Homo sapiens: one gene and its partners. The protein of the gene in region 4 interacts with the protein of the main gene of each other region in a pairwise test. Each region holds a gene or a part of one and is shown on either strand. Other genes may lie near its edges.

The links.
Region 1: the proteins of LMO3 (region 4) and SNX33 interact in binary tests that used the Homo sapiens proteins (3 or more experiments, as listed by UniProt).
Region 2: the proteins of LMO3 (region 4) and CEP57 interact in binary tests that used the Homo sapiens proteins (3 or more experiments, as listed by UniProt).
Region 3: the proteins of LMO3 (region 4) and HOXC4 interact in binary tests that used the Homo sapiens proteins (3 or more experiments, as listed by UniProt).

The regions. Positions count from the first base shown.
Region 1 is NC_000015.10:75,643,261-75,650,911, reverse strand, and holds the start of SNX33 (sorting nexin-33), read right to left. Parts: upstream 3,001-7,651; 5' UTR 1,810-3,000; coding exon 339-1,809; intron 1-338. UniProt on the Homo sapiens protein: Plays a role in the reorganization of the cytoskeleton, endocytosis and cellular vesicle trafficking via its interactions with membranes, WASL, DNM1 and DNM2. Acts both during interphase and at the end of mitotic cell divisions.
Region 2 is NC_000011.10:95,785,609-95,793,501, forward strand, and holds the start of CEP57 (centrosomal protein of 57 kDa), read left to right. Parts: upstream 1-4,889; 5' UTR 4,890-5,090; coding exon 5,091-5,135; intron 5,136-7,893. Other genes in the region: protein FAM76B, read right to left, coding at 511-666, 2,016-2,070, 2,891-2,955, 3,784-3,870. UniProt on the Homo sapiens protein: Centrosomal protein which may be required for microtubule attachment to centrosomes. May act by forming ring-like structures around microtubules. Mediates nuclear translocation and mitogenic activity of the internalized growth factor FGF2, but that of FGF1.
Region 3 is NC_000012.12:54,048,997-54,056,538, forward strand, and holds HOXC4 (homeobox protein Hox-C4), read left to right. Parts: upstream 1-4,838; 5' UTR 4,839-4,926; coding exon 4,927-5,365; intron 5,366-5,853; coding exon 5,854-6,209; 3' UTR 6,210-7,034; downstream 7,035-7,542. UniProt on the Homo sapiens protein: Sequence-specific transcription factor which is part of a developmental regulatory system that provides cells with specific positional identities on the anterior-posterior axis.
Region 4 is NC_000012.12:16,603,153-16,611,057, forward strand, and holds the start of LMO3 (LIM domain only protein 3), read right to left. Parts: upstream 3,011-7,905; 5' UTR 2,914-3,010; intron 2,819-2,913; exon of another isoform or gene 2,662-2,818; coding exon of another isoform or gene 2,616-2,661; intron 2,228-2,615; exon of another isoform or gene 1,738-2,227; coding exon of another isoform or gene 1,713-1,737; intron 1-1,712.

The DNA of each region.
Region 1 (7,651 bases), on a different chromosome or scaffold from region 4:
ACAGAGTTGATATTCAACACATTTGTTTGTTTGTTTGTTTGTTTGTTTGTTTTAGAGACAGGGTCTCACTCTGTCACCCAGGCTGGAGTGCAGTGGCACAATCGGGCTCACTGTAGTCTCAACCTCCTGGGCCCAAGTGATCCTCCTACTTCAACCTCCCAAAGTGCTGAGATTACAAGCGTAAGCCACCGTGCCCAGCCCAACACATTTGTTAAATGAATGATTGAGACAGAGAAATAAAGACAAGTTGCTCCATTCTATCCAGGCCATCCCCATCTCCCCAGGGCCCAGCAGAGAGCCAGACTCAGGACGAGTTTCCTGCCTGCACTGGGCCTTACCTTTTTGTAGATGGATGATGTCAGGGAAGTTGGAGAGCAGGCCCTGGTAGAGAGACAGTGTGTCCAGCATCTGGAAGAGGTCATTCTTGGGCTGCTCAGCAAACATCTCCCCGATGGCTTCATAGGTACGGCCCGTGTGAGAAATGGCACTGTTGAGGGCCTCAGAGCAAAAGGGGGGGTCCATCTGGAAGGAATGACTGATGGCCTGGAAGGCACTGCCCAGCTTCTGGAATTCCTTGCGGAAGCCCCCCACATGTTTACGCACCAGCTCTGATGCCACAGTGCTGAGCTGCAGGACGCTGTCGTCCATCTTCTTACTGAAGGCCTTGAAAGTGTCCACGCGATCTTCCACGTCCTGCAAGTCCTGGTGCTCGGTGGGGATCTGGAAGGTGAGCAGGAAGCTGGCACCCACCATCTCATCCTTCTCCGCCCGGCGTTTGCCCATCTTCCACTGCTTGTCATCCAGGCAGCTGAGGAAATGCTGGAAGCCTTCGTACTGGGAGAGCACAGGGTGGCTGGTCATGTGGTCCATCCAGAGGATGAGTCTCCGCTTCCGCTTTTCGATGAAGTCCTCCTCGAAGCGGCCAGTGGCCTGCTTCTCAGGCAGGTGGGGCACCGAGATGACAGTGAACTTGTGTAGCAGGCGGTTATAGAGCCAGTCAAAGTGTTTGTAGCGCCGGTAGACGGGTGAGGCAGCATGGGTGGGTGTGAGCTTGTAGGAGATGTAGCTTTTGATGCCCTTGAATTTGGTCTGTTTTGTGGGGTCCTCCACAGAGCAGGCAAATGGGTGGGGATTGGCCTTCCACTGGGGGCCACGAGGGCCCATTTCAATGGAGTATGTCTCAGCGATCTTGGCCATCATGGGCACATCACCCAGGATGAAGGCCTCCACTCCAGAACGCACAAAGCATGAGAAACGGTTGAGGTTACGGCCCACCACACTGCCTCGCTTGGCAGATGCCAGGCTGTCCTGCCGCTCCAGTGGTGGCTTGGGCCGGAAGGCCATGTGCTGGCTGGGGTAGGCACCAGGGTAGGAGAGGTTGAGGGGAGGGTGCCCGTTGGTGCCCAGCCCACCAGCCCGTGGCTCCTCCACCACTGTGCATCCGTCGTCCCAGTCATCCCAGTCATCATCATCATCCTCCTCAAAGCTACCCTGGTTTGAGAGGAAGCCACTGCCCCCACCACTCCTAGCTGGGCTGGCCACACTGGGGCTGTTGTACAAGCTCACCTGGGCTCCGGGAGAGCCTGCAGGGCTGCTGGAGTAGTCAGCATGGTTGGTGCTGATGCCAGAACGGACGATCTCCACATAAGAGGCAGGAAAGAGCCCTGTCTCCCCACGGCTGTTCTGGCCCTGCAGCCAGCCATCCAGTGAGGTCTCGCTAAAGATGACCAGGTCCTCATCCTGCTGGATGCTGATTTCCTCCTTGTTCTCACTGTGAAAGTCATAGAGGGCTCGGCCTTTCAGTGCCATGGCTGGGCTGGGTGGTATAGAAAGATGGGAAGGAGAGGGTCCTGCCCAGACCGGGGATGCTCACAAGGCAGTCCAAGAATGCACTCGCAGCTGAATGGCGCTTACACAGTTCAATCTCTCAGGTCCTAAGGTGGGGTCTCAGCACCCACAGATGCTGTCCAGTCTCCCCCTCTTCAAAGCAATGTCCATGGCCCAGAAACTGCCCTATCAGGTCTCCGGGCATATGCTTGTGAGCAGGGAGGGCTCATGTCCACAGTCTCCTCCTCCCTTAGCAGCCTCTGGGGGGTTAGAGGGGAATCTCTCCTAACTCCTACTCCCAGAAGAAAAGTCAAGTGACCTGGAGAAATCTGCCCTGCGAGGGGAAAAATTCGACACTTTCCACTGGAACAACGTTCTAAAATAGAAGAGACTCACTCTGAAACCACCATTCCAGAAACCCGGGCAGGGCTCGGCTGTCCCTCTGGCTCCCAGATTCTTTTGGCGGCTCTCGCTTTGGGAGGCTCTCACATTCCTCTGCAGATCTGCCCCTTCCTCCTTCCTCCTCTTGCTCCTGGGCCACTGGGTTTTCAAAAATCCGGAAAATCCAAGAGGGGCAAGGAGAAAAGCAGCAGCCGCCTGAATCGAGTCCAAGGGTGGATGTGTCCGGCTTCACAACGAGCCAGGCCGGGAAAACAAGGACTGAGGCTTACACAACAGGCCGCCAACTCTTCGACCCCGGCTGCGCAGCCGGAGCCCCCGCCGGCTCGGGCGCCCTCTCCCCGCCCCAGAAGTGGCCAGCCCCAACCCCGGAGGAAGGAGGGGGCGCGACGAGGCTGTCGGGCGACTTCTAGCCACTCGCTGAGTGGTCTCTTTTGTTTGCCTAATTCCTCAGCAGTTTCTGAGCCTGACGCTGACCCTGCTCTGAATCCCAGGAACCCCGTCCAAAGGTAACCCCAGCAGAAACCGGTTCCTCACCCGGGACTTACGACCCCCGATCACCACCCTCGCGTGCACGCACACACTCAACAGTTTGGAGTTTGGAGAGTGAGCTCCGGCGAGCAGATGGCGCGGCCAGCCGTCTGTCCGTCCGTCCTCCTCTCCGCCCTGCGGGGCCCGGCCAGTGGGGGGCGGGCTGCGCCCCCAGCCTGCCTTCCCCGGCGCTCGCAGACCCTCCGCTCCGCCAGCGAGAAGGCAGCTCCAAAACAAAAAGGCGATTCCGGGAGGTGGCGTCCTGAGGAAGGAGGGGATCGCCAAAGGGGAGGTGAGGGGTGGGGAGAGGGAGGAGGGAGGGGGAAGCAGGCTGGAGAATCGGGCAAACTCCGCTGCACTTCCGTGCGTCCCGGCGGGGCAGGGACGGCCAGCTCCGCCCTCCCGCGGGCCCGGGGCGCTGCAGCCGAGCCCCCGCCTACTCCTCCGCGCGGCTTCCCAGCTGGCCAGCGCCCTCGCTCGCTGGCGCTCAGTCCGGGAGGCGAGAGGGAGGAAACGACCCGGGAACGAGGGGGCCCGAGAGCCTCCGGGGCTGGTCCCTGGGACCGCCACCTCCCCTCCTCTCCCTCCGCCTGTCCGCCCTCGCCGGGAGACACCTCACGCCCCCGTGGTTGGAGCGCCCGGCGGGGGAGCTTGCCAGCTGCCGCTGCCTCGCTTCCTGGACTCCGTCATCCTCCTGCCTTTTCCGTGACGCAAATGGAGTAAAACTCCGAAAGTTTGCAAAGCGTGGGGCTGCAAGGAGCACCGCGCCAGAGCCAGGATCGGGAGATCGGGGTGGGGGGAGGGGGGTGCGTGGAAAGCCGCCGCGCCAGCTGGGGTTGGGGAGCAGAGTCGCGGACTCGCCTTCCCACCTTCCCATTCCCCACTCCTGCTCCGCAGGGACGGGTCGTGGCGCAGCTCAGAGATTGTTTTCCGGAGGAACAGAAACGGCCTGCGCGTTCCAGGCGTCTGACCTAAGATACCGAGAGCTGCGGGTGCAGCACCCTAGCCAGACAGGGCGACCCTGCCCTGGGCGACTAGCTTGGAAGGAGGGAAAGACACTACTCTACATCTGCAGCGACAGGGAACAAGTCTAGGTGCCACCCGGTTCCGTGTTGCTTAGTACAGCAGCGGGGACTGGATGTTCTGTGCTAGCCAGCGGCAGCAAGGAGAGAAGTGGTCAGGTAGAGAATCTTCGAGAAGAGGCAAGTGGGATCTGACCCTCGGTCAGCATATCGGGAACACTTTGGGCATTGATTCTGCTAGGCACTGTGCTGGGCACTGGGGAGTAGTACACCACAAGGCAGTCGGGGTTTCTATCCTGGGGGGCTTACAGTCCACCCTCTCTTGTCTTTAATCAATCCATTCTGTCTCAGTCATTCATTCAGCCAAGTCATGCACTCAAGAAACATTAACTGAGTACCTACTCTGCACCAGGCCCCTGAGCTACAAAGACAAATAAGACATTATCCTTATTTTCCAAAAGCTCAGATATGTTGTGACAAGTAGACAAATGCTCCCTGCCCAGTGTGACTAGTTAGTGCCATGAAAAGTGCACATGAGGGTACCTACCCCAGCCTGGGTAGAGCAAGGATCAAGGAAAGCTTCCTGAAGGAGGAAGTGCCTAAGATGAGGCAAAGGCTTCAGGAGGACTCCCTTTCCTGGCTATACCCTGGAGTCTTGTCTACCCTGTCTAGCTAGATCTTCCCTTCATTCTCTCCCTAGTCACTTATTGCAGATTAACTGGTACAAGGTAGTTCTGCTAAAGATGGATACCTTTGGCTGTTTTGAGGGACATGGTTCCCAGACCTCTGGCTCCAAAACCCAGTTTCACTGGTTCAGTGAGTGGATCCGACTCCCTTCGCAGGTCTGGCATTTGACCAGAATAAAGGCCTATGTACAAACCCCAGAAGGCTAGGTATCAATTTGCACAGAGAAATAAAACTGTCAAGCAGAACTGAATTTCTGCATCAATAGATCAAGGCAGTTTGGGCTACCCCTTGGGAAGCCCAGTTACCAGAAAGTTAGCTCAGTGAGTCTGGAACCCCCAAGAGGGGAAAGGGTATGAGGAGTCTCTCAGTCAAGTAACCTTAAAACCTTGCTTCCTGTCATGGGGCAGCCTTCATTCTAAAGACAGTTCGTCCTAGCATCTCTAAGACAGAATATACGTTTTCCCCACGTGCTTTTAGGACCCCCCCCTTCCCTGTGATCTATCTTCTGTCCACATAGCCTTTCTCCAAACTGAGTTTAACAATAGCATCAGGGCTGGGTGCAGTGGCTCACACCTGTAATCCCAGCACTTTGGGAGGCCAAGGCAGGTGGATTACTTGAGCTCAGGAGTTCGAGACCAGCTTGGCCAACATGGCGAAACCCCATCTCTACTAAAAATACAAAAAATTAGCTGGGCGTGATGGCGCATGCCTGTAATCCCAGCTACTCAGGAGGCTGAGGTAGAAGAATTGCTTGAACCCAGGAGGCAGAGGTTGCAGTGAGCCGAGATTGTGCCACTGCACTCTAGCCTGGTGATAGAGCAAGACTCCAATCTCAAAAAAAAAAAAAAAAAGATAGCATCAGCCAGGTGAGGTGGCCAGGAGTGAGAGGCTGCAGTGAGCCAAGATGGTGCCATTGTATATGTCATTATACTCCAGCCTGGGGGACAGATCGAGACGCTGTCTCACAAAAAAAAAAAAAAAGCAAAAAAAAGCATCTACTTCCTTAGTGCTTGCTGAGTGATGGACACTACAGTAAACGCTTTACCTTTATTAGTTTACTTAATACAATTGGGATTTCTGTTCACCCAATAGGGTCCCCCTCCAGCCCAACCTCCCCGAGGCGTCCTCAGCCACCACCCTTGACAGACTTTAGTTGGTTCCCAAACACTCAGTCACACATTTACAGACCAGCCATTTTGGATTTACTCCCACATGTGTTCTAGACGGGTTTTTTTGTAACTCTCAGGAGCCACCCTTATTTCCAGGTTCTTGGGAGGAACTCACTCCTCAGCCTCACTGAGATTTCCAGAACCTGTATCTTCCCATTCCCTCCCCTCCAGGGACCTTCTTCAGTCCTAGGGGAAACAGGCCATGTTAGCAGTCTCAGGAAACTGCACTAACCCTTGTGATCTCCCTATACCCTGCCCATTCCTATGGAAACAGTCCCTTTAGTCAAGTCTCACATTATTCTTTTTTTCTTTTCTGTTTTTTTTTTTTTTTTTTTTGAGACAGGGTCTCACTCTGTTGCCCAGGCTGGAATACAGTGGCACAATCACAGCTCACTGCAGCTTCAACCTCCCTGGGCTCAGGTGATCCTCCCCACCTCAGCCTCCCAAGTAGCTGGAACTACAGGCACCCGCCACCACATCCAGCCAACTTTTGTATTTTTGTATAGGGGGCTTTTCACTATGTTGCCCAGGCTGATCTCAAACTCCTGGGCTCAAGCAATCCTTCTGCCTCGGTCTCTCAAAGTGCTGGGATTACAAGCATGAGCCACCACCCCCAGCCTCTCACGTTATTCTCACTGGGGTGTGTTCTGTCTTTCCTGCTGGGACCCTGATTCATACACAGGAAACAGCATCCATCCCTCATCCAGGCATCCAATTTCCATCCTTTAGGAAAGGAAACAGCAAGGGAGAACTGTGCCCAGTGGTTTTCAGGCTGACTCTGCTGGTGGCAGCCTGCAGGACACACTGGACTATTACTGTAGGAATGCAGACAAAAGATGATGAGGGCCTGACATAGGGCAGGGGTAACAGGCTGGAGAGACAAAAATCTGGGAGAGCTTTTGGAGGTAGAATAGACTGGGAAAGCAACCAATAAGCTGCAGCTATTGAGTGAAGTATCAACCCACATGTTAAAAAAGATTTTTTTTGAGGCCGGGCATGGTGGCTACTGCCTGTAATCCCAGCACTTTGGGAGGCTGAGGTGGGCGGATCACGAGGTCAAGAGGTCGAGACCATCCTGGGCAACATGGTGAAACCCCGTCTCTACTAAAAATACAAAAATTAGCTAGGCATGGTGGCGTGTGCCTGTAGTCCCAGCTACTCAGGAGGCTGAGGCAGGAGAATCGCTTGAACCTGGGAGGCAAAGGTTGCAGTGAGCCGAGATTGCACCCGCCACTGCGCTCCAGCCTAGCGACAGAGCAAGACTCCATCTCAAAATTTTTTTTGACTCCACTTTCCCCACCAGCTATTGCCCCATTCCTCTGCTCACCTTTGCAGCAAAATTCCTTGAAATAGCTGTCTATACTAAGTGCGTCCAATTTTTTTTCTCCTGTTCTCTCTTTAAATCCCTCTGGCCAATCTTTTACTCCCACACTCCACTGAACTATTCTTGTCAAGGTCATCAATAGCCTTGGTGTTGCTGGACCCTAATGGTTATTCTCAGTCCTTCTCTTATTTAGCCTTTTGGTAGCATTTGACCTGGTTGATCACTCCTTCCTCCTGGATACATTTTCTTCATTTGCATTGGAGAGAACATACTCTCCTGGTATTTCTTCCACCTCACTGGTTCATCCTCTTCTCTCCAATAATTCTTTTTTTTTTTTCTTTTTTGAGACAGTCTTGCTCTGTCACCCAGGCTGGAGTACAGTGGTGCGATCTCGGCTCACTGCAACCTCCGCCTCCCAGGTTCAAGCAATTCTCCTGCCTCAGCCTCCCAAGTAGCTGGGATTACAGGCGCCCGCCACCACGCCTGGCTAACTTTTTGTATTTTTAGTAGAGATGGGATTTCACCGTGTTAACCAGGCTGGTCTCGATCTCCTGACCTCATGATCCACCTGCCTCAGCCTCCCAAAGTGCTGGGATTACAGGCATGAGCCACAGCGCCCAGCAAGCCTCCAATAATTCTTAACGTTAGAGTAACCACAGTAGAGTTGTCCTCTTGTCTTTTGTATCCATAGG
Region 2 (7,893 bases), on a different chromosome or scaffold from region 4:
AATTGATAGGCAACAGGAGGCCTGTGTGAATGCTGATCGGCAAAGGAATTATCACATGAACACAAATACTTATTACATTAAGTCACTGCAGGTAGACAAAAACAAACAACAGTTTCAAATATGAGCCTTTATCAAAAGGCACAAGAGTAACTGAATTTTATGTGCCAATGTGCCATCAGGTATTTTTTTCACACCAGTGATGTCAAGTAACTAGCAAAAGGGTAAAGTAAAAGGAGATATTTAAGCAATTAGTTAAATCTCCTGAACCAAATGTGGGATAGCCAACTAGTACAGAATAGCCACCATAGAATATTTTTTAAAGTATAGTACATGAATCTATGTATCATGCAAACAAAGAGAAAACTCACTATTCCTGCACTTTCATCTAACTACTTGCTTTCATGGACCTAAAGAATAGATCCAGTCTCAGTAGTGTATTAATTATAATTTCCAACTTGTTTGGCATTTTATTTAATTTCCAGAAGATGTCATAACATAAATAAAGCATACCTTTCTTCTTCCTTCCTCCTTCCGATCAAAAGCACATTGCTGTTTGCACTGTTCACAGGTCTGAGGTGGTCCATACTTTTTTTCTGAATTTGTGCAACGCTGACACTTGGTACCAATAAATGCTGCAATTATGTTACAGTACTGACAAGGCTTGGGCTGAAAAACATACACATTTTGAGACTTTTAAAAACATTAAATATTTGCGGCATAGCATATACCCAGTGTTGTAGACATATTTCTGGAATTAAGAAAACTCAGGTAAAAAATTTGTTTTCTGTCAAGTTTGTTGCCCTGTCACATGCAATAACTTTTATACCATATTTCTATGCATTCAACTAGTATTTATTTCTAGTCATGTAACTATTACTCTAAGATCGTGAGAAATAGATTTGTGATTTGCATAGTCTGTTAGATAATACAAAAACTACACATAAAAAAGGTTTTAAAGAACGAAAATAAAGGTACATATGTAGAGAAGTCTCATGAATCAAGAATTTGAGGAAACGTCCTTCTACTAATATCCTAGTTACCTTAATGACCATATCATTTATTTAGAAAATGTTAACTTTTCATCACATATAGGTACAAATCATATAAGGAATATATACTGTGAGTTTTCAACTTTGAAAAAATGAGAACAAGCATATTCAACATAAACTATAAAAACATACCTTGATTTTCTTTGATATTCAAAAGATGATTCAGGGCAGTTTAGAGCGTTAAAGTTAGCATTTTTGACCAATAATAAATAATATTGGTATAATATACCTATAATGATTGTAGTATACATATAAGACAATTTGTACTAGGATTGGGTCATGACTTCTGTGAATAAATATCTTTAATTGCGCTGTTTTATAAAAATAGTTCTGAGGAGGCTGTTCTGAAGTGGGCTAAAGTCTGATGATGCAAACTTTATGGATAAGTTCTCCATAACCAAGAATTTGCTATATTTGAATCTCTAAAGAACAGCTTCACAAATTTCACACTGGATTCAATACATGTAAAACAGGTATATAATTTGACTGTTTTTAAATGTTATCACCTTTCCATCAAAGTATCTATAGAAAATGTCTTTCATAAAATATGGTATGTTGAAATATCTAAGAGCATAGCAGTAGTTTTTTTTTTTCGAGACGCAGTCTCGCTCTGTCCCCCAGGCTGGAGTGCAGTGGCAGGATCTCAGCTCACTGCAAACTCCGCCTCCTGAGTTCACGCCATTCTCCTGCCTCAGCCTCTGGAGTAGCTGGGACTACAGGCGCCCACCACCATACCCGGCTCATTTTTTTTTTGTTGTATTTTTAGTAGACATGGGGTTTCACCGTGTTAGCCAGGATGGTCTCCATCTCCTGACCTTGTGATCCGCCCTCCTCGGCCTCCCAAAGTGCTGGGATTACAGGCGTGAGCCACTGTGCCCAGCCAGCAGTACATATTTTTTTAAAAGGTCCAGCTTTATGAAAAATATTAACTGGTAACAATGACATGAAAACATAAGACATACTTACCGTCCCAAATTGCTTCACATTTTGAGCACACTTCTTACAAATTGTGTTAGTTTTGCTGAAAAATAAATTGTATATAGATCATGTTTATGTAGCTTTCTAAAGTAATTAGCACAATGTCAAAATAAAATGAGTCAAAGATTTGTTGTACTTAAAACTTTAATAAGGACCACGGATTTTTTTCAAATATACAAGGATATTTTCAGAGTTGTTTTACCCAAATTAACTTATGACAAATGTTTTTATACATTTTTATTGCATATTACTTTTTGTAAACAAAACATCTTAATGTTTCCTATATAGCTCCAAAATCTTCACACTTGACACTATTACTGCACAGCATTACAATACCAGTGCCTACCTAACCTTCCACTTGGCTACTGTCCAACATTATAATGCCCACACCTATTTATGAAGAAATTATTTGTTCTTTTCTGAGGCTACTTTCTGTATATACTCTCAGAGTGGAACTGTTAAAAATGTTACGTACTACTCCTCTTCTATGTAACAAATTATTAGATTTTCACCTTGGAAGGCAGTTGGTAACACTACAGACCTTTCCTCAGATCCATTAAGGCTTTACCATTTTTTTTTAGTTTAACATAACTGTTTACATTTGCATTTTCATTAGCAAGGCTGTACATTTTCCATGTAGTATTATTCCTTCTCTCATATAAAGTCTAACTGTAAATTAACCACCACTGGTTTTTTTCGCAACATTCTCTCTCCCACCATGTATAAAAGGTTTACAACTTAAAATTTCTGGGGCTAAACCATTTTTTAAAAATACTTTCATAAAAACATGGGATTACAACCCCCAAGTATTCCATAAAGACAACACTTGTCTTTAACAGTCAAAAACTATTCAGTATACAAACCTCTCTTGTTGAAATTCTGATCTGCAGTAAGTACATTTTACAATAGGATGTGCAATCCGACATTCCTGTAATAAGACAATACATTAGTCAGTATCTTTCTGAAAGTCCCAAATCTCACTTTTCTGGTAGAAAACTGTTTACCCAACCTAGTGAAAGTCTAAAACATTTATAAAACCTGGCCCCAACGTAAAGAACTGGATGCTTTATCATATAAGTGGCCAATCACAATATAATTCCTTAGGGAAGGCACAGGTGTCTTTGTCTTTAGTAGACGTGGGGGTATATTACAGACAAATTAAGAAAGCTGTCAGGGCCTATTTCAAGGATTGGTTAAATGTGAAACTACTTATTATTTTGCACCGTTGCTCACAGACAGCATCCAGGCTTTAATGGGATGGGAGGAGCTCCAAATCAGAGCATTCTGTTCCCAAACCAGTCGCTTCGCTTTCCTGGACAGGGAAGAAGGATGCCATCAGCTTTGCGGCTTCGGGTTCCTAGCAAGAAAGTGCAAAAACCGTCCCCTGCCTCCTGGTGGAAGAAGAGGACAGACCAGGCAGAAAACCGAGATGAAAACATCTCCACCCCTGGGTCTCTGCGGCATAGACAGGTGGCTGCCTCACTCAACCCCACTCCTGAGACCCCCAGACGCTGACGGGGCCCGGCACCCTCCTGGGCCGCCTGGAAAAGGGCACGATTCTGCCTCCCTTTCAGGGTCCGTTCCCAGCTAATGTTCAAGCCCCCAGAAAAAGGGGTCCCCGAGTGGGGAGGCGAGGGCTCCAGACTCCCAAACCCCTGAGGCGCCGGCGAAGAGGGGCTGCAGTGCAGCGGCTACCCGGCCCCCTCCGGCTACGGCCGAGGACACCCATCCCGCCCGCCTCCCGGAGCCCACGGACCTTGCAGAGCTGCTGGCCCTGGGAGAGCTCCTCGAAAGGATAACGCTGGGTACACTTGGTGCAGGCGTACAGGGCCGAGGCCGCCATCCTGCTCCTCAGTCTCCTCCTCCGCCGCCGCCCGCTCCGAGGCGGGGCCCTACGGAGAACCCGAGAGCCGCCGCCGCCCGGGCCGCGGGCTCCTCCTCCTCCCCCTCCCCCTGCCTCGCGCCCACCAGGGCCTCGCCGCGAGAGCCCAGGGCCCCGCGGACGACGCCACCGTCTCCCTCCGCCTCCACTTCCGCCCCAGCCCACCCAGTGACGCCGTGCCAGCCGCTCCCGCTTAGGCCCCGATAGCGGCGGAGGGAGACGAAGCGGGTAGGGGGTTGCTGTTTAGCTGTGCGGCCGTGGATCCGCTTCCTTCTCGGCCTCCCTTTCCCATCCCTGATTGGCTGCGAAGGCTATCGCGTCATTCGATGGCTCCTCCCAACTCCCAACTTCCGCGACGCAGGAAGCGCCCACAAAGGGAGGATGTCGCCGGCCAATGACATCCCGGAGCTCTCAGCGCGCGAAATCCGCTTTGAACCTGCCCCGCCCAAAGGTCTGCGGTCGCGGCTATTTCTAACAGCCAGTCCCAGGTTTGGCTGAGAGCGCCCCAATCCAATTGAGCAAATGTTCGCGAAAGGCTCGTTCTCTGCCGCAACTTTTTTTCCCTTGCTTTCTATTGGACTAAATCGTTAAGTCCCTCCTAATCCTATTTGTTATTGGCCAAAAGGTAAATACTTCACCTGGAGAGGCGTCCCCGAGGCAAATTCACGCTCTCTCCGGCGTTTAATCCGAGGGAACTCGTGGAGTGCTTTAACTTCGCCTTCGCTTTTGTTTTATCTCCATTACTCCCTTCAGTTGCCACTGGCGACACCACTACTCGCCCACGCTTCTTACTGGAGGAGGCCCGACCCTCCGTAGAATCCCCGCAGAGCCGGCCTGTAACCCCGGCGTTGTCTGCCCCAGCGGGCCCCGTTACGCGCTACCTTGTGACGTCACCAGGGAAGAGGCGGATTCTCTCCTACTACAGAAAGACGTCTGCTGTTTTGATTGGCTAGGAAAGACGTCCGTTAGGACGTGTTGCCCTTTCTGTGTAAGCTGTGAGCGTAGGCGGCCCTGAGGGGGTGTGTTGCAGGGGTTTCCAAGCCCAGCACCAGCACCCTTGCCCTTTTCCATCAGGGGTTCAGCCTAGGGTCCCCGCTGGTGGGCGGCTCCCGAGTCTTGGAGAAGAGCACGAGAACCTAGACCGCCCCCGAAGTGCGGAGACCCCCTGGGCAGGCTGAAAGATGGCGGCGGCGTCTGTCTCTGCGGCTTCTGGTTCTCACTTGTCGGTAAGAAGCAGTTGGCGCGAGTGGGCCCCACGTCGGCCCTAAGCGCCTCTTTGAGTTTCCTCACGTTTCAGGGCGCTGTCAGTCCAGCTTCTGACGCAATTCTGGAGGTCGGCGGGAATGCCTAGATTGCCCCGCGCTCCCCAAGCTTCCATTCACTGTGGCTGTGTCGAAGCTGCACCCTCTGGCTCCCAGTGAAACTGGGCTGGCCGCCCCTGTTCCCCAGCCCTTATTCACCTTTTGGCGTAGCAACCAACCCCGGTTGCCTAACATTCCCAAGGGCCGGCTGGGATAACTGCCCACTCCCTGGCCTGCAAAAATGTAGCTCTTTTGGTCACGTGGGTTCAGCGGCCCCTCTAGGAAACTCGCCAGATCAGGTGAGGCGCGCCAGTGTGTTTAAGAGACGTTGCAGAATAGTAGTCCGCCGTCTCTCGAGCGCTTACTAGTCGTTGCTTATGCTGTTTCCTATCCCTGCAGTGCCTCCCACTCCCATCCACATTAACTTCGTTGTGTGATGCTCGTAGCCAGAACGCGCGCTTCCTGTCACCTAGAATTACTGGAACTTCAATGTGGAAATGCCCTTTTGGAGAGGCGACAGGGGGAATTGATTTTAAATATTGTTTTCGCCTCATCAAATGTCACCATCCAGTTTAGTTACTGGTATTCACTGGTATTTCTCAAATTGGAGTGTCGAATGCTTAGGTTTTTGAAAACCGCGGCATTGGAAAGCTTTGATAGGAAGTAAATGTTGGAGCTCTTATTTCTCCAGTTAGCAAATGTTCGATGCCTGGTATACTGTTAGGGTCCAAATGAACAGAATAGAAACCCTGCTTTGAAGGAGAAAAACACTGAAGAGAAACTACACGTAATTAGTGATTACTGCGCAGTATAGTTTAGGAAGTGCTACCGTAGTAGAATAATCTAGAGGGGAGTGATTAACAGTGCTTGGGTAGGCTAGAGAAGGTTTCCTAGAAGGGAAGATGGAGCTAGTTGCGTGTCGAAGGAATTGTGATTGCTTGTCCCAAGAGTAGAGAAAGGAGAAAAAGGCAGTGCGGGAATTTTGGAGTATGTGCTAGAACAGTAGGTGCTTTTAGGAAACTTGAGATAGTTCGGAATGAGAAGAAGTAATACGGAGGTAGAGCTGGATGAGGTGAATTGGAAACGTAGGTAAAAACGTGAAAAAAGAAGGATGGTGAGGGAAGGAACTAGAAGAGTATCAGGGTAAAGTTATTTTCTAGGATCTAGGGGGAAAGAGTTGGAAACGCTAAGAAAGCCTGGTCACCTTGGAGAAGTCAGTTTCAGCTTTTGGAGACTTGTTAGAATTTGTAATAATGGGACTAGAAGTATTACAGTGTTTCAGCCGAATGGGAATTAGAAGTTTGCAGAGAGGTCTGGGGAAGTTAAGGAGAAGTAAGGAAAGCAGCAATTTAAGGTTATTCAGGATTAGGTCAGTAAAAGAAAAAAGTAAAAAACTATTGGAAGTGTCAGCAGATGGATGAGATTTTATAGGAGATGTGATTAAACTTGGGAGAAGAGGGCTTTTCACGGCTCTCAAAAGTTAAGCACTTGGAGACCGAACAAGGAATACTCTTACAAATGTTGAATTGAGTCTGGGTGCGTGGCTCATGCCTGTAATACCAGCTACTAGTGAGGCTGAGGCGGGAGGATCACTGAGGCTGAAGTGAGGTATGATAGTGCCACTGCTCTCCAGCCTGGGCGACAGAGCGACCCTGTCTCCATAAAATAAAATATTAAATAAACGTTTAATTGAGCTGCACTATGCCAAGGACACCTAGGTGAGCATTGGCACTGGGATATAGTCAGCTGTTAATACTTATACGGTACCCTTGACAGAAATACCAAAGACTGTTCATTAGGAAAGCATATTTTTTTTGTGCTAAGCTCAGCTTTAATAGGATTCTAAATATCAAGGGTACACTAAGAATATCTAGGAACCTCCACAAATCAAAGTATAACAACCATAACTCAATCTGCTACATCAAAATGTCTATTTTGGAAGTTACTGTTTCTCAAAACAAAAATGACTAAATTTAGTTGGTTTCTTGGTGCGTAAGAAAACGTCCTGCTTAGATGTCCCATCAGAAATAAGGCTGCCATTTCCAACAGCGTTGGAAAAGCACTTAGCTTATCAAACAGCTGATCTTAACAGTAGGCAACATTTAAAAAAAAAAAAACTTGTTAAAACTATACCATGAACTGAGAACACAACTCGTATTCAGATTTCACGGTTATGAAGATTAACAACTGTTATATTCAACTGTTTTCGACATTGATAAACTCATACGGAGCTAGTTATAAGTACATTGAGATGCTTTACAGGCAAAGATTTTTAACAAGTAGATTCATAAATAACCGTCTTTGGGAAGCAGTGACCATGTAAATCTCAAATGTGAACAGCATGGAAGTAGGGCGATAGGTTTCAGTTAGGTTCTAGGTAACGTTTATTGAGTGATTGCTCTGGAATTGATAAACTTCGACTGGTGGAAAAGGCAGGAAAGCAACTATGATTGGGCATAATGAAATTAATTCCATATGGAGGTATGGGCAGCATTGTGTTGAAATACACAAGAATGTCTTTCATGTCAGCCTTGTAATATTTTCACAATAACCTTGGTGATTAATGACCTAATCTCTTGATTTGTCCCTCTGACTTTTGGTCCTTCGACCAAGCTGCACAGTAGCTCCATATTAATTTCCCTTAAAAATGTTTTATGGCTATCATACATTTTATAATATTAAA
Region 3 (7,542 bases), about 37 Mb from region 4:
AAGTAAAGCTTGCATCAAAGTTAGCAAGGGACACCCCAAACCAAATTTTAAAAAGGATATCATCCAGCAGTCTTGAAGAGGGGTGGGGGTCAATGAGGCTGGGATGAGGGAGGAAGGTGGTGGGGAACCCAACCTCTAACTAACAATTTCTCCAGCATAAAAATGAAACATCAGATTCGTTAGCCCAGGGCCTTCATTTTTCCCCTTCCACATTATAACTAGTTATTGAACTCGCTGGAAGATCTAAAGGCCATTTGCGAAGAGACAAATTTCAATGGAGTTTCCCCATCAATAACCCCATGGCAGTGAACTATTGGAACAAGTCAAACACCCGAGGTGAAATGCAGGTCACTCTGTCTAACCAATATTAAAATGCGGCCACTTTTTAAAAAGCCACTTTAAACGAGATTTGAGGAAAATTGAATTCCAAGGAAGGCAAGGCAAGGCAAGAGAAATCCATGAGAGGACCTTGCCTAAGGTCTCCAAACAAACAAGAGAAATTCATCTTTAATATTTTAAAGGGGGGCAAATTAACATTCCATGATTGCTTTTTTTTTTTGAGACTATAAGCGATTCCAGGAGAAGAAAAAAGGTTGAGTATTTTCTGGTGACACATCCAGGTTATTAAAATCATTTTAGACCAATTCATTACTTTTACTGACAAGAGATTTAAGAAAAAATCAATTAAGATTTGCATATTCTTTTGCATACATTAGCCCTGGCTGCCGGCATTAGAAAGGGACAAACACATACACACACACACACACACACACACACACACACACACACACACACACACACACGAAAAAAATGGGCTATGAGCCTTGATTTAGTTTTGGGTTTTCAAGTTGCCCAAAGGAAAAAAAAATCAAAGTGAAATGAATTGCCTGATTGCATACCATCTAAAATTCAATTTATATGAGTGAAAGGAAACAGAAATGTTGCAATTTTTAATCCCTAAAACAACAACAACAACAACATTCACACACATAAACCCTGCATTTCAAAGAGTAGGGAAAGGAATGACCCTCATTTTCCTTCCCTTTGCCCTCCAAATCCTGAATTGGTTCACCCATTTATTTTTCTCCCTTGGAAAAATCAGAGAGGGGTACGATTTTAATGCAGCAGAGAATCTATGGAGCCGCTGAGCTCTCTCAGCCGGCAGCTTGTTACTGGGGAGGGGAGGAATATGGGTTATCCAACGGTCAGTATGGTAATCCAGGCACAATAAGGCCTCACACACAATGGACACATATTTTTCTTCAGCGATGTCAGAAGGGAAGCGCTTTGTACTGAAACGTGTTTCCGAAAGAGAAACCAAATCGAGATTTAGAAAGGAGATGGGGTGGAGGGGCAATTGCAGAGAGCATTTGGATGCTGGCAAAAGGTAGTCAGAAAAAATAAAAATAAATAAAACTGGGGCAAAGTGAGGTTGAGGACAGGGCAGAGGTGCAGCCCCTGGGCCAGCAAGGCGGGAGGCAGGAGGGTGAAACACAAAAGAAGACAGGACCAGATACAAGGATTCATCACAGATGAGAGCTGCTTTAGTACCCCCACCCCCTCCCAATTAAGCCATTGCTAAGTGCAAAAGCCCTTCCAACGGATTTTATTTCTGTGCTTGTAATAATATCCAGGTGAAAATGTTTGTGTGTATGTGTGTGGTATTTTACCCATGTGACAGGCGACTTCCTTGCTATTAAGCTATAGGAGCCCAAAGAGAGTTGCTGTTGTTGTTTTGTAAATGATGTAGATGAGTGTGGGCACATTTGGGGGAATCTTGGAGATTTCACTTTCTGGATGTGCATGTTGAATTAGCTGCACGAACCTGGAATGAAAACTCTACATATTTATAGCTGCATAAAGAGGCATTTAATATATTAATAAATATTAATAGTGTGCACGCATATATGTTAACCATAATAACCAAAGACAGACTTGACATTCAGTTGGGGGCATCTGAACCCTCTGTGTCTACTACTTATACTGGCCCAAAGTCAGTCTCCTTGACCCCCCTGCAGAAGCTCAGAAACCTGGCGGGGGTGGGATGTGACAGGCAACATATTGGGGAGGACTCCTTAACAAGTACAGGAGGGTGAAGATTGAAGAAAAGAGGGTTAGCGTCAGGGCACGGATGGTAAAAGGTGAGTGTGAGGGCTGAGAGGATGAGAGTCAGGCTCACAGCTCACCTTTCCAGGTGAGGCAGCCGCATCCAGGTACAGGCCTAGAAGGGAGACTGGGAGTGGGGCCGGGAAGGTTTCCTCCCTCTTCATCAACCCTCTCCACATGGCACCAAAGTTTGCTGAGCTTTGGACTTCCCGGTGGAGCCATCTGGGACTACAGTTCAGACTTAGGTACTAGGATTCAGCACTGGTTTCCCTTTGCCCTCTTCCAGCAATTTATAATGAACCCACCCCCACCACCAATGATTAAGACAACCCCACACAACCCAAACCACTATTAACCAAGCAGTAGCCTTCCTCCGCCCCCTCACTCACAGTCTCAACTTCCTCTCCAACCAAACCAGCCTGTCCTCACATGCAGAGAGTTCCGGACAAGAGTGGGCAAGGGTTCTCAGCCAACTCTGAGAATTTGGGAATCTCCATTAGAGGTGTTCAGCCTCTGGGGAACTCCTGTTCCTTCACCTGGCCTGGTTACAGTGGGGATGGGCACTGTCCTCTTGGAGAGAGAGTATTCAGGGACCACCAAGCACCAGCTCCTTGGGAGCTAAGCCCTGGCCCTGCTGAGCCTGGGGTGGGGCTGGGGGCCTAAGCATTGGAGGAGGGAAGGCAACGAGGGCCCAGGCGGGAATCCGCACCCTTTGGGCACGGCTGTGGGTCCAGCTTCCCTCTCATTCCAGCCCTTTGGGGAAGCCCTAATTTGGAAGTGGGGACCCTCTCCAACATCCCAAAGGTGATGAGAAAAGGATTGGAATCTCTTGCCTTCAGTCTCCCTCTCACAAGGGCTTTATTTTTTTTTTCCCTTTCCCCTCCTCATTCCCTTAATTGCAGATGTTCTAATTAAACCCTCAAATAGTTGTTATGCCGTTTTAAAAGGTACTTATTCAAGTGTCAACCAGGCTGGGCTGGGAGGAGGTAGCGTAGGGCGGCGAATTAAAGGTAGATTGACTAATCACGGCGGCGATCATAATAATAAAATCAGAGGGAAAAAAAATCACATTACGACTTTTCGTGGAAAGGAGGGAGCAGGCAGCCAGCGGCCGCCAGCCCTGCGCCGCCGCCGACACAAAGAGTGCGGGCGATTCCGCGAGACTGATTTATGACGTTTTACAGCCCTATAAAAGCTGTAGCGACGAGGCAAGCGCTCCTACCACCGCTGGCAGATTTAGTCTAATAAATAAAACATAAACAGTTAACTTTATGTGTCACTTTTATTGTTATCAAGTAAAATATAGCTGAGCCCTGGCAAGCTATGATTTTAAACTATAATTGTTATCAAGTACAACAAGGGGACCCGGCTCCCTCCCTGGGCTCTCCCCTCCGCTACCCCCCGCAACTCTGAGTTATGGGCGATCAGTTAATTGGAATCGGTGGCATGACAGGACCACCCCTAGCTGGGGGGGGGGGGTGGTGGTTAGGAAAGCAGCTTTTCCTGGCCCCCTCCCTCCTCTACGGCCCTGTCACCCCCCTCCATCAGAGTATTACTGTGAGTGGGTGGCAGAGAGAGAGCAGGGGGTGTGAATGGGCTGGAGACCCCAAAGGCTGGCCGTGCCTCCCCAACTTGGTGAGCTTAGCCTTCCGTTTTTGGAAAGCAGCCTGGAGCTGGCCTTTAGGAATTCGTGTTTACATGTAAACACACGTGTTACATGGATACAGCTCCTAGCCAGAAGCAAGCAGGCTCTACCCACACAGGCCTCCCTCTTAGCTAGGTCTGCCCTCTGTGGGGACAGAGAAAGAACTCTCAGGATCTTGGCTGGGCACCATCACAGGGCACTGACTCCTGGCAGAAAGCTCTCCTCCTTGCCCCAGCTCCTTGGAGATAATTGTCAGAAAATAGCAGGCCGGGCTGAATGGGGAGTGGAAACAGAAGCCAGCAGTAGAAGAGATCCTCTGCTCTGGGGCTGGGGCAGGGAGGGTCAGTGGGTAGCAGGGGAAGGCGAGACTTCTGAACTCTGCTTTTGCCAACCACTTCCTGTCTCTCTTCAGCGGGGGCTCAACCCCCAGACCTCCAGAAATGACGTCAGAATCATTTGCATCCCGCTGCCTCTACCTGCCTGGTCCAGCTGGGACCCTGCCTCGCCGGCCGCATGGCCAGAGGGTTGGGTGAGTGTGTATGGGGAAGAGGGGCTGGACTCTGGTATCCTTGGATGGGGGGCACTCCAGGCTCTCCAGCCTCCTCGGCTCAGCCTGGGCCCCTCCCCATCCAACATCCACTCCAGTCCTCATTCAACTTCCTCTTCCTGCGAAAGAGGGGCGCTGCCCCGTGACCTACACAGACTGAGACACGATCGCCATGAATGGAGACCTCTGGAAAAGCTCAGGAGCCGAGGCCCACGGGGCCCAGCAGAGGCCTGAGGGGAGACCCTGGGCGGGGGCTGAATCACTGCCTCCCGACAGTCCCCCAATGCCCGGGCTTTGGAGGGGAGCCGGGAGCTTCCCATCTCCTTTTGCAGGGGAGGGTTGTCAGTCTGGCGGGATGTGCACTGGGGGCACTCCAACCTCTGCTAGCTAACCCCACATCACCACCCACCCCCGCCTCCCAGCACCACCACCACCACACACACAAAAAAATTGGATACATTTTGAATAAAGCGATTCGGTTCCTTATCCGGGGACTGGGTTGCTCCGTGTGATTGGCCGGAGGAGTCACATGGTGAAAGTAACTTTACAGGGTCGCTAGCTAGTAGGAGGGCTTTATGGAGCAGAAAAACGACAAAGCGAGAAAAATTATTTTCCACTCCAGAAATTAATGATCATGAGCTCGTATTTGATGGACTCTAACTACATCGATCCGAAATTTCCTCCATGCGAAGAATATTCGCAAAATAGCTACATCCCTGAACACAGTCCGGAATATTACGGCCGGACCAGGGAATCGGGATTCCAGCATCACCACCAGGAGCTGTACCCACCACCGCCTCCGCGCCCTAGCTACCCTGAGCGCCAGTATAGCTGCACCAGTCTCCAGGGGCCCGGCAATTCGCGAGGCCACGGGCCGGCCCAGGCGGGCCACCACCACCCCGAGAAATCACAGTCGCTCTGCGAGCCGGCGCCTCTCTCAGGCGCCTCCGCCTCCCCGTCCCCAGCCCCGCCAGCCTGCAGCCAGCCAGCCCCCGACCATCCCTCCAGCGCCGCCAGCAAGCAACCCATAGTCTACCCATGGATGAAAAAAATTCACGTTAGCACGGGTAGGCAACTTTGCTTTTTGCTCCCCCCCTCCCTCCCTTCTTCCCTAGCGCTCCCCACCCTCCTCGGCCCCCTCTGGCCCCCGTCCTCCTTTCTCTCCTTCCCCCTCTCTCTCCAGGAGCGACTCTGGGTTAGCACAATTGAACTGGATTTACGAGCGAGAATGGGTAATTACATCCCCCATAAATTTTATGGCTTAGCTACTCTGGGCAGTCCGAGCCATGTGCTACGATCTGTTATGTATGTGTGAAAACTATGCTCGCTTTCTAAGGGCGCATAAATAATTCAGTGTCGTTACAATGAGGATTCCCCTCTTATTACACTACAAAGTCTTCAGCTTCCTTCAACTTCTTTATAACCCATTTAAGCTTGATGACTTTATTTCCACCACTCCCTCCTCCTGTTTCTCAGAGCTGAGGATGGGGTGAGGGTGGGGGGCGGGGAGCCTGCTGCCTCTGAACCCCACTATTTGCTTTTCCCCTCCCCCCAGTGAACCCCAATTATAACGGAGGGGAACCCAAGCGCTCGAGGACAGCCTATACCCGGCAGCAAGTCCTGGAATTAGAGAAAGAGTTTCATTACAACCGCTACCTGACCCGAAGGAGAAGGATCGAGATCGCCCACTCGCTGTGCCTCTCTGAGAGGCAGATCAAAATCTGGTTCCAAAACCGTCGCATGAAATGGAAGAAGGACCACCGACTCCCCAACACCAAAGTCAGGTCAGCACCCCCGGCCGGCGCTGCGCCCAGCACCCTTTCGGCAGCTACCCCGGGTACTTCTGAAGACCACTCCCAGAGCGCCACGCCGCCGGAGCAGCAACGGGCAGAGGACATTACCAGGTTATAAAACATAACTCACACCCCTGCCCCCACCCCATGCCCCCACCCTCCCCTCACACACAAATTGACTCTTATTTATAGAATTTAATATATATATATATATATATATATATAGGTTCTTTTCTCTCTTCCTCTCACCTTGTCCCTTGTCAGTTCCAAACAGACAAAACAGATAAACAAACAAGCCCCCTGCCCTCCTCTCCCTCCCACTGTTAAGGACCCTTTTAAGCATGTGATGTTGTCTTAGCATGGTACCTGCTGGGTGTTTTTTTTTAAAAGGCCATTTTGGGGGGTTATTTATTTTTTAAGAAAAAAAGCTGCAAAAATTATATATTGCAAGGTGTGATGGTCTGGCTTGGGTGAATTTCAGGGGAAATGAGGAAAAGAAAAAAGGAAAGAAATTTTAAAGCCAATTCTCATCCTTCTCCTCCTCCTCCTTCCCCCCCTCTTTCCTTAGGCCTTTTGCATTGAAAATGCACCAGGGGAGGTTAGTGAGGGGGAAGTCATTTTAAGGAGAACAAAGCTATGAAGTTCTTTTGTATTATTGTTGGGGGGGGGTGTGGGAGGAGAGGGGGCGAAGACAGCAGACAAAGCTAAATGCATCTGGAGAGCCTCTCAGAGCTGTTCAGTTTGAGGAGCCAAAAGAAAATCAAAATGAACTTTCAGTTCAGAGAGGCAGTCTATAGGTAGAATCTCTCCCCACCCCTATCGTGGTTATTGTGTTTTTGGACTGAATTTACTTGATTATTGTAAAACTTGCAATAAAGAATTTTAGTGTCGATGTGAAATGCCCCGTGATCAATAATAAACCAGTGGATGTGAATTAGTTTTACGTCAATGTCTGATGGTTTCTTTTTATTCCCCTCCCTCTCTGGCCTGGTAACATCCCATCTTCTCTATAGTTGCCTAAGTTTACTTTAAACAAACACACAAATCTTAGCTCTCCATTAGTCTTCCAATGTCCTTAGAAGAACAAGCAAGGGGGTTGGGGTATGGGATCTTCAGAAGAGGGGATGTGGAAGATTAAGGCTGATTTCTCCAGTCCCCTTCCTTCCCCCTGAGTCTGCAGAGAGACCAGACTCCTCTGGGGGCACTTCAGTGGAGCTGAGGGTGGGGAGTGTCTCACTTTTCTATAGTTAGGTACAGTTTCTTCTTTTTGTCTTTTCTCTCTCTTCCCTTCTCCCTCCTCTGTGCTGAGTAGGCCTGCCTACTTTGTAGACAAGGGGGCAAGTTTAGGGAGTGGGAAGGAGAATAGTTTTCTTTCATCTTTTAGGGCTCTTTTGGGATGAGGGATTAAGGAAGACATCCCCTCAACATTTGAGTTCTTAAAAGAAGGAAGG
Region 4 (7,905 bases):
AATGTTTTTGTTGTGTTGACATTTTAATTTAGCACTCAGAGGCCAATTAATATTTGAAACTCTTACATTCTGTTTGGCCTTGGGCATAAAAGGAGTTTGATATTTCACACTCCATCCTGGTACCTTATTTGAAGAACATCATGGCAATTCTCTTGAAAATGGAATCTCTTGAATTCCATGCAAGTTAACAATTGTAGCAAAAGAACTATTTTGTAGTCACCATGTTACCGTGTACTTAAAAGGCATAAAGCAGTCAGCAGTCTCCCCTCTTCCACCAGAAGAACATGTCTGGGTAGAGTTACGTGTTTGTAGCTAAGAAACATTTCACAAGTTGCTCATAGCACATCAGAACTCATAACTAGTTTTAGATTGGCATGTAAATTGTTCTGAGGGAAATTCTTATTGCCTCTGAGACCCTGCCATTCTGAGTTATTTGACAGTTTAAGGGAAATCATAATTAAAAAAAAGACATAAATAATAGCCTGTGCAGTGTGGTGTGCAGAAATAAGTAGAACCATTTCATTTAAACTCTGGTGAGCTTTTAATTGCCTGGATTGCATTGTGAAGCGGCCTAACGGTTGATTGCCTCCATTATGTTCCCTTGTTCTGTACCATTCATCCGCACAGTCTCAGCTTCAGTAGTTAACACAACAAAGTAACCACAACTCCACAACACACAGGGGTTTAAAAAAAATAATAATAATGAAAGATTTGCAGCACTTAGACACAGTCTTACATTTTTGGACTAACTACACAGAGTGAATAGAAAACATTTTGTCCGTCGGAAAATTCACAGAGAACAATTTGGGAGAGGGAAGAGGAAGAGGGAATACATAAAGGGGGTTGGAAGAGATGAGGTGCTTCAGAAAGATGCTAAAATGGGAATGCAGGTTCTGCAGCTGGGAGCATTGACACAGATTAAAAGAATTTGGCCAACATGGCCATTCGATTGCCAAGAGGCACCAGACAAAAGATTTTCTCTCCTCCTGCCCATCTTCATCCTCTTCCCAGCCCCCAACCCAGGTTGGAAAACTGGATTGGGCCTAAAAGCTTGTTTCTCTCTGTTCACTGGCCCAGAGCATCCCTACAGGCTGCAGCCCCCTAAGGGACAACAATGCAAATAGATGTCCCCAGATCTCAGGCACTGGAGCTGCTTAACTCTGTTCTGCCCCTTCAACTCCCAGCCCCCTTCCCTATCCTTCACCCCCCTCCCCTTTTTGAGCAATGGAGCTGGGAACCAATTTGATTCCCTTTTTCTCCAATGCAGCTGCAAGGCTCAGAGATACTGACATTTTTCCACTCTTATCAGTTTAATTACAGTTACCATGGCAGCAAAGTGCTAGTGCTTGGCAAAGGCCAACAAGAGATTTGCAAGACTGAGTTCAATTTTGATGCAGCTCACATGCAAAATAAAAAAAAAAAATAAGAAACATACATACACTCTAACAAAGAATCCCTTGCGGAGTTTATGCTCCAGCCTTTTGTGGTTGTGTCTTTGCAGCCACACAGGGATGGTTTGCAAAGAATGTAGCAGTATTTGTTGCATCTAGCAAGATTAATTGGTTTAAGCAGCAGTCTTTCAAAGCAGTTACAACAATAATATTTCGGTTCTTTCAGAAAGACACAAAAGCAGCGGAAAAGCAGAAAGGCTTTTGAGCGGCCAGGAGTGCAGAGCGCCAGCAAAGTGCATCTATGATAGACTGTAACCTTACCAAAACTTTTCTCCTTTTTCTGCATGAGTTGACTTAGGCGTGTCTGAGTTGCAGCAGCTTCGCATTGAGCACCAAACCCAAAGGTAGAAGTAGAAGGGGGTCTCCTTGATTTCGCTTAAGTGTGGACCTGGTGCGCAGCCTACACCGCCGAGGACCGACTATTGTGAAGCCACTTTGGGAGCGGGTCGGAGTGGCGGCAGGGGGTGGGGGAAGGGATGAGGACGGCCAGACAAGACAGGGCGCACACACGGAGCCCCTCGCAGTGTGCAAAATGATGGCGAATGACAAAGCCACATGCTTCCCTAACTCTGCCCGTAATCCTAAAATCCCAGCGGCCCCTTTTAGCTTCCTGGTAACAAATGGATTTGATTAAACTGTCACATGCAGCGTTAGCATAGCATATCATGTTCAATATGAAAAAGATCATAAATCTGACTTGTATTTCATAACAGCAATCTGAGTAGTCCCCGTAAAAAATGTGCTGCATCAGTTTGAATCTCAATCTATTAGGATATAGGCACCTTGGTCCAGGGACCTTCCCTCTTCTAGCCACTTCTGCCCCTACCCGCCTGCCCCCCCCCCCCGCCCCCATGCCCAAACACAGCCACTTTTCCACGGCAAAGGAACAACATTTTGTTATTATGGCTGCGTGGAGAGAGGCAGAAGCGTCAACAAGGACCAAAAGATTGTAATATCAACTCTTTAAGAAGTGGGGGTTCATGAATTCCAGCAAGTAAGGGGGAGGGGTCCGGAAACCCACCCAGGACTGAATTCTTTTCCTATGGGCTGGGAGCAAACACTTCCTAATTCCAAACTCTCCCTGCCCCTCTCTCCCCGGGAGTCAGGGGTGTGGAAATACTGCAGTTCATGGTGAACTTTGACTATTATCCACTCGAGTCGTACTTGAGACGTTCCGCGCCGCAGCCGCTCTCCCTCCTTCCATCAACATCTTCCGCCTGCATCTATTTCATGTCTCATCATAAAAATAATGAAGCCTCACATGATTTAAACAAAACCGTCTCAGTAGAGCTGCAGCCCGAGTGAAAGTTGCAGTGCGGAGCTGGGTTGCAGCTCCAGTTTATGCCTCATTAGCAGAGGTTGGGGAAGAAAAAAATACCCACATCCGCACACGCACGCGCGCACCCGCAGACACACACACCACAAATAAGCCGACGCGTGTGTACACAGTTGCTGCACTTACCTTCTCAATTAAGCGATACAGGGGGAGGCCGTTCAGTAAGCACAGTGGCTGCTTTGTAGCGCTTCTCCTTGGGAAAGGTCAAAAAGAAGCATTGTTTGAAAAAAAAAAAAAAGACGGGGGAGGGAATGTCTATTTTTTTTTAAGTTTAAAATAATGAGGTCCTCAAGGATACGCCAAGCAATGGTGTTGACCGCATCTGAGCCACAGGTGTCCTCCTTTTAGGCAACTGCAGTCCGAGGCTGTCTCTCTCCGTCCTGGTTCAAGACAACTTACCCCAGCAGCGTGCGAGGAGCCGAGCTGAAGGAAGCTCCGGCTCTCAGCTGCAAAATGCAATCCCTTCCCAGCCAGACATAATACAGCCAAAGAAAAGGTCACTCAGTTATTAGTGAGCCGGCGGAGCCCAGGCAGCGCTTGTCAAGACCACAGAGAAGCAGCTCCCTTCCGATTTAAGACTATTTACCTCTCGCCCCCACCCCTCCCCTCTTCTTTCCTTCTCTCCCTCCCTCTCTCGCTGGCTCCCTCGCTCGCTCTCGTGTGCCTGTTCTGCAGCTCAGTCAAGTACAGCCGCCCTCGGAAAGTGCAAAGCAGCCACGAGACAGATCGGGCTTTGTTGCTAATTTCCCAGGGTGAAAATTTACAAGCCTGCGAGTGCAGTCAGCACAACCACATGCATATGCTACTCACAAACGCTGGGGACAAACCCGCACACAAAATGTGACCTCTGCAGGAGTCGACTGAGGAAGGACCCTACCTCCTGGACCAGTCCAAAAGAAGAACTCCTGCGAGAGAGCTCCGGAGGAAAAGGGTAGGGTTCCTAAAATAACCAGGGCATTTTGGAATAGGTGGCTACATTTAAAGCAAATTGCCTTCCAAAGCCATTTCTGAAGCTACCAATTATGGAAATTAAAATAAAAGCAAGAGAATCAAACTGCTACCAGAATACCCTGGAAAAAGCACACAACCCTCCCCTTTAAGAAATGCCTGGAGGTGGCTGCAGTCGCTGGTCTGTCTGTGACTTCCATTCATGAACTCTCTGAAGTCGCTGCTCCGCAAGTCCGCCACACAAGCCTGGTTCAGGGGATCACACACACACTCTCCTTCCTCCCTTCCTCCCTTCCTCTAATGGCCCAAGACCCAAACTGTGAACTTGTTCTCCATTCACTAATGCTGACCCCCACCACCACCACCCCGAAACACACTTCCTGCAATTACTTGAATTCCTTACTATTTAAAACTCACACGCTCCAATGAAAAACAGCCAACAGCACTGAGAAACATGTTTTCAGGACTAACTTGGTCAAAGAACCATAGTTTCTGCACCATTACTGCTTTGTCTTCACAGGCTTGTTTTAAGGCCTTGACAGATTTTTTTTTTTTTTCTAATAGGTCCCATTCTCTCTAACCTCCTCTCCTCTTAACTTTCCTTGGCATCTATAAAGGCCACTGGTAGCTTTAAAATACCTTATTATTTTTCTAAGTTTTCAAACTTCAAAGTCACCCTCTGTTTGGGCTGCTCTTAAAGTACCCTCACCAGATTTTACAAAGCTTTGTCAGAGGTCAAGCTTAAAAATGGTCCACATTTGAAAGACACTCACTGAAATGTTTAAGAGCCAAGAAATATTCAATTGTTGAACTACAAAAAACTTTTTTTCTTCTCTTCACCATCAGTTTTAATCTAGCTCTAGTTTTAAAAAAAAAATCAAAGCACCCCCCCCATGAGTATTTAAGCTAAATTTTGTTTTTCTTCATAAAGAATAAAGGCACAACATTGATAACTAGTTTTTACCCCCTCCCTTTTGAAGGCTCATAATAAAATAGCCTGTGGTTTGCTTTCCTCTCCCTTTAAAAGGCAACAAAACTCAGAACTAACCTGAAAAATAACGATATTCACAGACGGTAGATTAATGAGAACCCCTTAGTTGACTTGTTCTGTACATAGGCAGATTTCTTAAGTTTGGCTTTTCTGGCCCGTCTAGGCAGGCATACATGCACTTCACCCATCCGCACAGCTCCCCACTGTTCTACCCCACCTCTCTGCTACAGCCACTCTGAAAACACCCCAGTATGTGTGAGTGTGTGTGTGTGCATATGTGTGCATGCATGTGTGTGTGTCTCGTGCGCTCTGTCTCAGCCAATGCACTGAGAAGAAGAAAAGAGGGAGGGAGGGAGGGAGAAGTATGTGTGGGGAAAGGGAGAAATAAAATCAAAACAAATGGTACAGCTAATGAGGACAATTAAATTAATTATGTTCAAGGAGATGAGATTTTTTTTCCCTCCAACTGTATGATCTGTTACCCCTCGCTGGCAACTGCTGCTCTGTAATTCATGGCAACTGATTAGTGCATCTATGCAAATCTTTGTTTAAATCATTCAACTAATTAAATGATGGGATTATTCCTCTGCCTACGGTGACATCATTCGCGGTAATTAGTACTCTATTTGGACTGTGGCAGTAAGATTCCTGATATCAACACCAACCTGCAAAGACATTAACCACTTTGTCACCTTTTTCTTAAGGGACAAACACCCAGATCTCTAAGTGCATCCCATCCTCTTCCTTTTTCCCCAATCTTCCTTTTCCTCTCAATTTTACCATTTCCCCCACACTTATAAGCAAGTAATACTGCCAAGCAAGGAGGAGAGAGAGAGAGAGAAGGAGAGACAGAGGAGAGAGAGAGACAGAGAGAGAGAGAGGAACTTAGCGAATAATATGCCAAACCACATGTGTAAAGGAATAAAATGGAATAGTTAACATTCAGCTCCATGCCATTCATTTTCCCCTAAAATGTAATGATAATTAGATGGGTCATAAAATGCTCTTCTTTTCATTATGACTGATGAAATGCATTAAAGCTGACAGGGTATTACCTGACAGTAATTAGGTTTTGTCATGAATTAAATTATTTGAAAGCAGGCTATCTCCCCAATCACGCAATTTACAGCAAGATTTTTTTTAATCTGTGCTACAGAAGGGAGAGAGATAGAAAATAGCAGTTTTTCTCTTCATAATCATATGAATTATTCACAGAAAAAATCATCAGAAAAACCCCGTGCAGATGAAGAGGCTTGCCACTTAATGTACTGCACAGATGTGATCATCAGCGGTTGCCGACAATGAAATATACAAGTGCACACAAAGTGATCTGGTGAACAAGAGGTGGAATTTAATCATCTTCTGCTGACACTTTGCGAAAAACACCATTAACCCTCAGCAAACTCCCTGTTTTCCTGGCTCCCCCCAACCCCAAAGTCTCACCCCTCCCGCGAGGGAAAAAGTGAAAGAAGAATTTGTGCTTTTGTTTACTCAGCCAAGCTAAAGGTTGGATCCAGCCAGGCAAGCAGTTTCTTCATTTCCTGAGAGTAAACTACCCAGTTTAATTACAGATCCTTTGGAAATCTTTGCGAAAGGATTGCTATAAAGAGCCAGATCTTTTTGGTCCGATTACCTTTTGCCTGTGCCCTCTTTCTGCAACTCATCATCAGACGTTTGATGAGAGAATTTACTTCATCCAGCCCCCATCCCAACACTTATTAAAGGAAAAAAAAAGGCAGACTGTCTTCTTCAGGGGTCTTATATTGTGATACCTTGATGAGGGGAAAAGGGGAGGGGAATGACAAAATGGGGTGGAGGAGGGTGCTGAGGGGGTGATTAGATATATACTACTTACCTTTGCCCAAAGGAGATCTCCCACAAGAAAATAGTGTGTATATATGTATATTTCTAAACACGTCTTCAAGTTTTCAGCTGTTTCTTTCTTTAAAACACACCTCACAGATTACTTTTGTGTGCGGGTGTTCAGTTACGATTTCTGTGGCGTCCCAGAGATGCTCCGGTTAGGTTGCCGTCTTTTTTTTTTTTAATTTTTTTTTTAGGGCAGCAGACAGGTTGTTGGGGGGAGGCAAAGGATAGCACACCCTGAAAGTCCAGGAGCAGTGAAAGGTCTCGGTCAAGGGAAGGATGAGGTTGATACTGCCCCCACCACACACACTCCCACCATCACTCTTCGAAATTCAGCAACACAAATGAAAGAAACCTCTGCTTCAGGCTTCCTGTCTTTCTTGTGTGCCTCTCCCTTTCTCACTTTCTTCCCGAACTGCATACAAAACCTGAGTGGGCCAGAGCTGCTCCTCCAGTATTTAAACACCTCGCCAGGTCCCTAGTTAGCAGCTTCCTTCAGCTCATCCAAGAAGCTGACAAGTACTGTTAGAGGAGGCTGTACATGTTGCTCTAATGGACCTCATTAAGTTCTACTTACAGATGTTCTCTTAACATAATTGATCTGCGGTGAGTTGAGAGGACTGCAACTTATTCCCTAGCCCCCAATTATGGTTGGGTAATTAGATCCCCAACCTCCAATTTTTCACATTCACCCTTCTAACATTCCAAAATATCAAAGTATCTCTCACCAAAGCTCCCCCTTACCGGACTCCACTCTACTCACTGTATTGACAGTTAGATCTGCTCTAACCTTTGTAGTGACGCCAGTTTTAATGGTGCATTCAGTCCATTGACAGAGCTGTGTTTTCTCCCCCAGCCTCTCTTCTCCTTTCCTCTCCACACTACCACCCCCACCCCACCCCCTTAACCCTCAGAAACAAAAGGGTAAAAAAAAAATCCTCTAACTTGTATAGTTTGTACTTTTGATAAAAGGTTTCAGTGATGAGCTTTGGCAGTGGTGCTTCCTTTCTAATGTCTTTTTATCTGTATTAATTCCTCAGATGAAAACTTTAAGGAACAATGAAGGAGAGAGGTAGTGCTCTGAAACGGTGAGAAGAAAAAAATTACACAGCACACCTGGGACAGATGAAGCCAAACTAGTGCTTTTATAATGCCAATCAGCAGGGCTGTTATCATCCCTCTAATTAGGAAAGCAGCCTAAAACAGAGAGCACTTGGGGAAATGGTAATGTTATGGTTTTGCACTTAAAAGGAGAGACATTTCCTGCACTGTAAGAATCTAGGATTGGGGCTGACAAGTCCTTTAATTAATGG